Regions from separate parts of the Homo sapiens genome. Here region 1 is linked to region 2. Evidence: fine-mapped expression QTL. A gene starts in region 2. The other region holds a variant in brackets. All regions are shown on one strand. Distances are between the middles of the regions. Region 1 has its middle 99 kb from the start of FOLH1. Region 2 holds the start of FOLH1 (folate hydrolase 1).

What was found. PIP is the estimated chance that this variant, and not a neighbour inherited with it, causes the effect.
Region 1: its variant is the best candidate, but not a certain one, in a credible set for the expression of FOLH1 in esophagus mucosa (GTEx, PIP 0.66).

Annotation. Positions count from the first base shown.
Region 1 is chr11:49,305,360-49,309,766 of GRCh38, reverse strand. It overlaps the pseudogene NOX4P1. Among named protein-coding and RNA genes, the nearest start is that of FOLH1, 99 kb to the right of the region's middle. The variant A/G (reference allele first, on the strand shown) is at 1,798.
Region 2 is chr11:49,205,891-49,210,297 of GRCh38, reverse strand. It overlaps FOLH1 (folate hydrolase 1), which reads left to right and starts at 1,696. Exons shown (of 19, transcript NM_004476.3): 1 at 1,696-2,006; 2 at 4,126-4,231. The coding sequence starts at 1,889.

The DNA of each region.
Region 1 (4,407 bases), 99 kb before region 2:
TCTGGCCAGGGCAATCTGAAGTAAATTTCTTATGAACCCAGGATTAGGCAAAACTTCTTAAGTTATTTAAGTAAAGACAAACTTACTTGTGTATTTTCTCCCTTTTCAATCATTCCCTTCTATTTTCATGTTACCAATTTCATGTATATGGGATGTATAGATGCAGACAGATGGGAACATGTTTTACAACATGCTTTACAACATGTTTCCATCTGTATGCATGTATACATACCATATATATAAAATAGTTTTGCTATCTTTCTTAAATATACATTTAAACATGTGGTCTCTGCTCTCAATTATCTTTCTTAGAAAATGAATAAAGTCCAAATATCCAACATTAGTGAGAATATTAAATAAATTACAGTACTTTCCTACTGTGAAATATTATACGGTCATTAACATGAATGAGGCACATACAGTAATATGGAAAGATGTCCATCACATGTAGTTGAGTGAAAGGAGCCAGTTACAAAACAATATGATCCAGCAAATAAATATTAGAAACTCATGTATGCAGAAGCTTATGGGAAAATATCTGGAAAGATATATGTCAAACAGTAGAGAAAAGGATTGGAAAGTGGGGAAAATTTTTTTTAAGTTTCTATTTTATTTTATATCTGTGAATTGTCTAAATGTTTATAATGAACTCATGCTATTTTTATAATAATATTAAATGATATGCTGACTATCTAATCATATTTGATGGTGTCCATTATTTAGCTAGATGCCCTCCCATGCCATTATTTACTCCATTTGATTTTTCTAATTTTACTTCCCATTCTCTCTCCCATTACACTGGATTTTACCTTTTCTAAACACTGCCTGTTTTGTTTAATGCTTCCACCTCAACCCAGAGTATCTGTGTTTCCCCTAAATTCCATCTCCAAAGAAAATTGTGCATATATTAGATTTCCATATACATTAAAATACTCCATAAAAGGAGAAAAGTAAATATTCAAGAAATTATATATATATATAAAATTTCTTTTTTGAGACAAGGTCTCACTCTCTTGCCCAGGCTGGAGAGCACTGGTGGGATCAAGGCTCAATGAAACCTCAAACACTGGGGCTCAAGCAATCCTCCTGCCTCAGCCTTCCTAGTAGCTGGGACTACAGGTGTGTACCACCACACCTGGCTTTTTTATTTATTTATTTACTGTAGAAACGGGGTCTCCTTATGTTTCGCAGGCTGGTCTTAAAATCCTGGGTTCAAGTGGTCTTCCTACCTTGACCTCCCAAAGTGCTGGGATTACAGGCATGAGTCACAGTGCTTGGCCTGTATTTTGAATCAACAAGCTTTAATATGTTTTAATACATTACTTCCTGAATTGTAAGGTGTCAAAAAATAATAAAGAGTAGTTACAAAGTTCTTGAGCAGATAACTATTTTCCTTGTAAAAAGATGGCTTACTTAAACATCAAGAATACTATGATAGCCTTGAATACCTTTTAGAATGAGATAGGACACAAAAAAAGAAAAAGATGCATAGCACCCTACAAATGTGAAAAAGCACGAGATATGTTTCTTACCATTGTGAGGGTAAATGGATGATTTTCTAATGCAGATATACTGGGACAATGTAGAGTAATATACTAAAAAGCAAAAAACGGATAAGTTTTAAATGACCAATTAAGAATTGCAACTATTTCAACGATGCTATGTTTGCTAAATTCCAAAAATTACATAAGGATAAAGGCTATTTAAAAAGTTGCTGACCACTGACTCACCTGACCAGGTCTTGCTTTAAAATTTTCTTTGACCATCCGGATTTCCATGACATCTGAGGGATGACTT[A/G]TGACCAAAATGATGGTGACTGGCTTATTGCTCCGCATATACCTGTAAAGTCTTTCAGCACAGTACAGGCACAAAGGTCCAGAAATCCAAAGCCAAGTCTAAGACAAATTTTTGAAAATATACTTCAAGAAATACTCGTATTGTAGAAATCTACACCCTGCCCAATTGCTCATTGCATACATTACAGTAATAGTATTTTAATTTGTATTTTAAATAAGAAAATATAATAAATGAGTAAAAAACAATAGATGCTCACTATCATTCAAACAAACAAAAGTATAAAATAAAACACAAAGTAATATCAAGACCCTGCCCTCATTCTCATGCTCTGGGTGTAACTATCCATGAACAAACAAGTGTATATTCTTTCATACACCTTTCTATGCCTACAGATATGTAATGTATATACACAACATATTTAATAAAAGAATACAGGGAAGTTAACAATCTCCGATAAATATGGGGATAATTTTAGAAATAAAGTAACAGTCTAATGTTTATTAAATAAGAAAACCCTAGATTTTTAATGTACATAATGTATATGCATAATATACATACATATGTGTATATATGTTAAATATGTATAGCACATATGTTTAAAAATGCATTATGCTAGGCATGTTGTTTACCACTTACTTTTATATAATATAATAAGAACATAAAATAATATTTATAATTTGGAAACCTGACAATTTTGAATATGTGTTGCATGGTTAGCCCTGATCCCAGGACACATGCAAACTTTGGGACGTGCAGAAGCCTATGTGGCTTACTGTTCTCTTAAAATTACACACTTTATCTTTCACATCCCTTTGAGGCCTCCAACTAAAACTTGTCTTAATGGTCACTTTTTAAAGCCTCACTCTAGTTGTTTCAAATCTTCTTTCTTTCATGCAGACAGATCATGCCTCTTCTGCATATAATAACATTTAGCCCCACACTGTGTTATGAGTAGCATTGCAAGACAAGGTCTGCAATGTAGCAGCCTTGCACCTTTGAGATAATCACTTACTCTTTGAGTGTCAGGTCCCACATGAGCAAAACGGGAGTCACCATACCTGCCCTGTCTAATATTTGTGAATATTATGTGAAACTCAGAAAAGTTCTGAAAATTATAGAGACTAGTAGGGATCTAGAGGATTATTATTAATAATAATAAACACATCACTAATACACTATTCCAAAGTCATCTACAAATTCATTCTAGCTTTTGACTTCTCTTTCTTCTCTTCCAATAGAGACATTTGACATCACTATTTCCTACTTCCACTTTTTATAGATGAGGAATAAACAGTGTAATTTGCATGGGGGTAGTTCTCACAGGCACAGAGGAAGATAAGGGCCCTTATTGAACTAATTGCTGAATACTTATGGACGTTTACCAGGAGCAAGCATATTAGTCAAAGACCTGTGTTTACATGCTTCCTCTGCCACTTACTGGTTTGGAGACTTTGATTAAGGTAAGTACAATTTCTTTATCAGAAAATCGAGGGTGATATTAATTACCTCAAATAGTCATTGCGAATATTGCAAGAAACATTCTGTATGTCTAATAAGTGTTCTGTATTAGGCATACGGGACATTTTAGCACAATGCTTGGCAGATAATATTAAGCATTCAATCAACTGATTTTGCTATTTACTATTTACAATATTATACATAATATTATAATACAATAAAATAATAATTTGTGATATTGGTGGTAGTTTTTTTACTACTATTTTTATTATTAAATCAGCTTTTCTCAAATGATGGGAAAAATATTTGTCATCTCTTGGCTGCAAGCACCAGTGCTGTTGTATGCAAAGCTCATATGGTCAGTTAAGTAGAAATGTTATATATCCTCTAATACCATAGATCTTTTGCATTCAACTGTCAAGTACCTGTAATGGAATAATAGGTACTAACTTACTGTTGAAACATCCTGAAATATCCTATTATGCATGAATATATAGCTTGAAAAACACATTTATATGTGATGTTGATCAGTCAAATGGAAACAAACTTTGTGGAGATCAAACACAAAATTAATCTGACCTGTGGAAAATTAGCTTGGAATCTGGGCTCTTCCATACAAATCTTCACAAATGTGTTCTGGGTAAACTCTTCCAGTTTTGAAAATCCTTCAGGGAAAGGTTCATGAAAATGTTCTGAGATATACTCTGGTAAGGAAATATTCTGAGAGCTGGTTCAGTTAAGACTGATACAGCCGGGAGGGTTGGTATCTAAATTAGTTTGATACTTCAGCAGCCCTCTAAAATTAAATTAAAAAAAAAACAAACAGAGAAATGAAAAGATTTGAGATCAGGGGACACGGTAAAAGAAAATAATGTCTTTGTTTTTGTTTTTTTTTTTGCTAACTTTACACAACATTTATCTAAAAAGTGTTCCTTATGTATTATGTTTAGGAGAAATTGAAAAATCTTAAAAAATGTTAAGAAATTCTTATCTATAGGACTAAAACAAAAATTTTGGCACTCCAAACAAATGCTATAAATATGCAGTAGAAAAGAATACATGCAATCTCTCCAGGCATTGTTGAATTTGACGGCCTTTACTTCAAGACTATTAGGCATTCATACAATCACATACAAGTTTTCACTTCAATAA
Region 2 (4,407 bases):
TGTTAAGAGTCTTCTGACTCCAAACTCAGTGCTCCCTCCAGTGCCACAAGCAAACTCCATAAAGGTATCCTGTGCTGAATAGAGACTGTAGAGTGGTACAAAGTAAGACAGACATTATATTAAGTCTTAGCTTTGTGACTTCGAATGACTTACCTAATCTAGCTAAATTTCAGTTTTACCATGTGTAAATCGGGAAGAGTAATAGAACAAACCTTGAAGGGTCCCAATGGTGATTAAATGAGGTGATGTACATAACATGCATCACTCATAATAAGTGCTCTTTAAATATTAGTCACTATTATTAGCCATCTCTGATTAGATTTGACAATAGGAACATTAGGAAAGATATAGTACATTCAGGATTTTGTTAGAAAGAGATGAAGAAATTCCCTTCCTTCCTGCCCTAGGTCATCTAGGAGTTGTCATGGTTCATTGTTGACAAATTAATTTTCCCAAATTTTTCACTTTGCTCAGAAAGTCTACATCGAAGCACCCAAGACTGTACAATCTAGTCCATCTTTTTCCACTTAACTCATACTGTGCTCTCCCTTTCTCAAAGCAAACTGTTTGCTATTCCTTGAATACACTCTGAGTTTTCTGCCTTTGCCTACTCAGCTGGCCCATGGCCCCTAATGTTTCTTCTCATCTCCACTGGGTCAAATCCTACCTGTACCTTATGGTTCTGTTAAAAGCAGTGCTTCCATAAAGTACTCCTAGCAAATGCACGGCCTCTCTCACGGATTATAAGAACACAGTTTATTTTATAAAGCATGTAGCTATTCTCTCCCTTGAAATACGATTATTATTATTAAGAATTTATAGCGGGGATATAATTTTGTATGATGATTCTTCTGGTTAATCCAACCAAGATTGATTTTATATCTATTACGTAAGACAGTAGCCAGACATAGCCGGGATATGAAAATAAAGTCTCTGCCTTCAACAAGTTCCAGTATTCTTTTCTTTCCTCCCCTCCCCTCCCCTCCCTTCCCCTCCCCTTCCTTCCCTTTCCCTTCCCTTCCTTTCTTTCTTGAGGGAGTCTCACTCTGTCACCAGGCTCCAGTGCAGTGGCGCTATCTTGGCTGACTGCAACCTCCGCCTCCCCGGTTCAAGCGATTCTCCTGCCTCAGCCTCCTGAGTAGCTGGGACTACAGGAGCCCGCCACCACGCCCAGCTAATTTTTGTATTTTTAGTAGAGATGGGGTTTCACCATGTTGGCCAGGATGGTCTCGATTTCTCGACTTCGTGATCCGCCTGTCTGGGCCTCCCAAAGTGCTGGGATTACAGGCGTGAGCCACCACGCCCGGCTTTAAAAAATGGTTTTGTAATGTAAGTGGAGGATAATACCCTACATGTTTATTAATAACAATAATATTCTTTAGGAAAAAGGGCGCGGTGGTGATTTACACTGATGACAAGCATTCCCGACTATGGAAAAAAAGCGCAGCTTTTTCTGCTCTGCTTTTATTCAGTAGAGTATTGTAGAGATTGTATAGAATTTCAGAGTTGAATAAAAGTTCCTCATAATTATAGGAGTGGAGAGAGGAGAGTCTCTTTCTTCCTTTCATTTTTATATTTAAGCAAGAGCTGGACATTTTCCAAGAAAGTTTTTTTTTTTAAGGCGCCTCTCAAAAGGGGCCGGATTTCCTTCTCCTGGAGGCAGATGTTGCCTCTCTCTCTCGCTCGGATTGGTTCAGTGCACTCTAGAAACACTGCTGTGGTGGAGAAACTGGACCCCAGGTCTGGAGCGAATTCCAGCCTGCAGGGCTGATAAGCGAGGCATTAGTGAGATTGAGAGAGACTTTACCCCGCCGTGGTGGTTGGAGGGCGCGCAGTAGAGCAGCAGCACAGGCGCGGGTCCCGGGAGGCCGGCTCTGCTCGCGCCGAGATGTGGAATCTCCTTCACGAAACCGACTCGGCTGTGGCCACCGCGCGCCGCCCGCGCTGGCTGTGCGCTGGGGCGCTGGTGCTGGCGGGTGGCTTCTTTCTCCTCGGCTTCCTCTTCGGTAGGGGGGCGCCTCGCGGAGCAAACCTCGGAGTCTTCCCCGTGGTGCCGCGGTGCTGGGACTCGCGGGTCAGCTGCCGAGTGGGATCCTGTTGCTGGTCTTCCCCAGGGGCGGCGATTAGGGTCGGGGTAATGTGGGGTGAGCACCCCTCGAGTTAGGAGGAGGGTAGCTGGGAACGGTGCAGGGCTGAGTTCTCGACAAGCTGCTGGTAGGACAGTCACTCAGGTTGAGGGTAGAACTGAGAGAACCTGAAACTGGGCGTAGGAAGGTTCCAAGTGCTGGAGCCCTGCAAGACAGAGGAAGTTTTTTTTTTGCTTTTGTTTTGTTTTGTTTTGTTTTGTTTGTTTGTTTGTTTTTTTACCTCTCTGTGCATTCTTTCTTCCTTGGAAGTAACAGAGGCAAGCTTGGGAACTGTGTGAACCAGGTCAGCAATCTGGACAGGTCTTTACCAGCGGGTCTTTTGCTGTTTTTCCTGGGTACTGATTTGCAGACTTGATCCAACTTTCTAAGAAAAGCAGAACCACACAGGCAAGCTCAGACTCTTTTATTAAATTCCAGTTTTGACTTTGCCACTTCTTAGTGGCCTTGAACAAGTTACCGAGTCCCTCTCAGCGTTAGTTACCCTATTTTATGATGAGGATAATATTATCTGCAAATTATTGGTAATAGTAAATAATATAGCATGTAAATCTCCTAGCACAGTACTGGGATTTTCGCCACTTTATTTCTTCTTTTACCAAGATACTCCTCATTGGACTTTAATACACAGGACTAGTCTAAGGTATCACCAGGTAGTCCACTCCTGCTCGGAATTCTTGACCCTCTTTCGGGATTTAGAAGAACAGGGCATGGACCAGATGGGTTTAAACAAATTCAATATCTTCCACTAGCTTCACCTTGGGGTTGTTAAAAGATTTTTGAACCACACACTGTGCTCATAACAATCTTCATCTCTTAAAAGGATTTTATTCTTCCTGGTATTGCCCTCACTCTCATCCCTGTATTCCGTGCTCAGTGGCTGACACAGAAGAGTTCTTTATTGATGTCCGCCCCCCACCCACTAGGATTCTCTGCTCTCCCCTCCCCCTACAGGCCTCCATCCTCTTCATCCTGTTCATTTTTCAGATCTCAGTTCAAGCATCTCGTCCTCAGTGTGGTGTTTCCTGATCCCTCACTCTAATCCAAGTCTTTCTGTTTTATGCACAGGTGGAATCTTATTTCCGTTTGCGTGCAATCATGTATTTTAATATGCATGTATATATGTATGTGCATTTGTATGCATGCGATTAAGAACTAGAATAATTAATAATTGGAAAGCTCCATGAAAGCTGGTTGGGGACTAATTTTGTAACTACTTTATTCCCAGATCCTGTAATTTCTCTAAATAAACCCTGGAATCTTGCCTTATCTCCTTCAGGTTAAAAGCCAACTGCAAGGTCTAATGACTGCAGGATCTAGCTATCCATTGTTTCTGGCCGCCTATGCGTGCACTGGGTGTCTGGCAGAGAGGCTGGGTAAATTGTAGTTTCATTGTAGCTGTCTGAACTTGGATTTCTCACGCCTACTTCACTGGAAACGCAAACTCTCACAGCATTTTGTTTTAGTTTCAGAATCAGAGCAAATTAGAAGTCTGAATTTCCTTCAACACTTGGAAATAATTTATTTATTTGAAATATATTCATAATTAATTCGTTATAAAAATGTATTAAATGCTTATTTGAGTCAGCAGAGGAAGATAGAAACTTTATGAAAGTAGAAGGTGGATCTCCTTTTTGCCTTCATTTTCAGAACATCTCGTTTACACCCATTAGTTGAAACATTAATGTCATTTTATTTTCGTCCTGATTATCTCATAAAACATTTCTTAGAATAACAGCAATACCTATCATTGAAGTTGGATAAGAAATATTTTGCAATTGGTTTGCAACTTAAAAATCTGTTTGCATGACTCTTTTTCAGTGAAAGTAGGCAAGAGAAATTAAAATTCAGAAATATCTCACCTAATGTCAGAGGTAATATTGATAATTTGTGTTTTACAAATAATACATACAACAATAATGAAAAATAAGTCCTATCTATAGGCTCGTATCTCATGCCTATTTTTGGATGTATTTTTCAGGGTGGTTTATAAAATCCTCCAATGAAGCTACTAACATTACTCCAAAGCATAATATGAAAGCATTTTTGGATGAATTGAAAGCTGAGAACATCAAGAAGTTCTTATAGTAAGTACATCCTCGAAAGTTTATATGGACAAGTTGTTAGAAAAATTTATCATTCTGTTTTGGTCCAATATTTTATATATAGGAACTGGACTTTTTTCTTAAAATTTTATTTATTAAAGATCTTGGATCACATTTCATCTGAGGAGGACTATACTTTCAGCTAAATTTTGTCATTA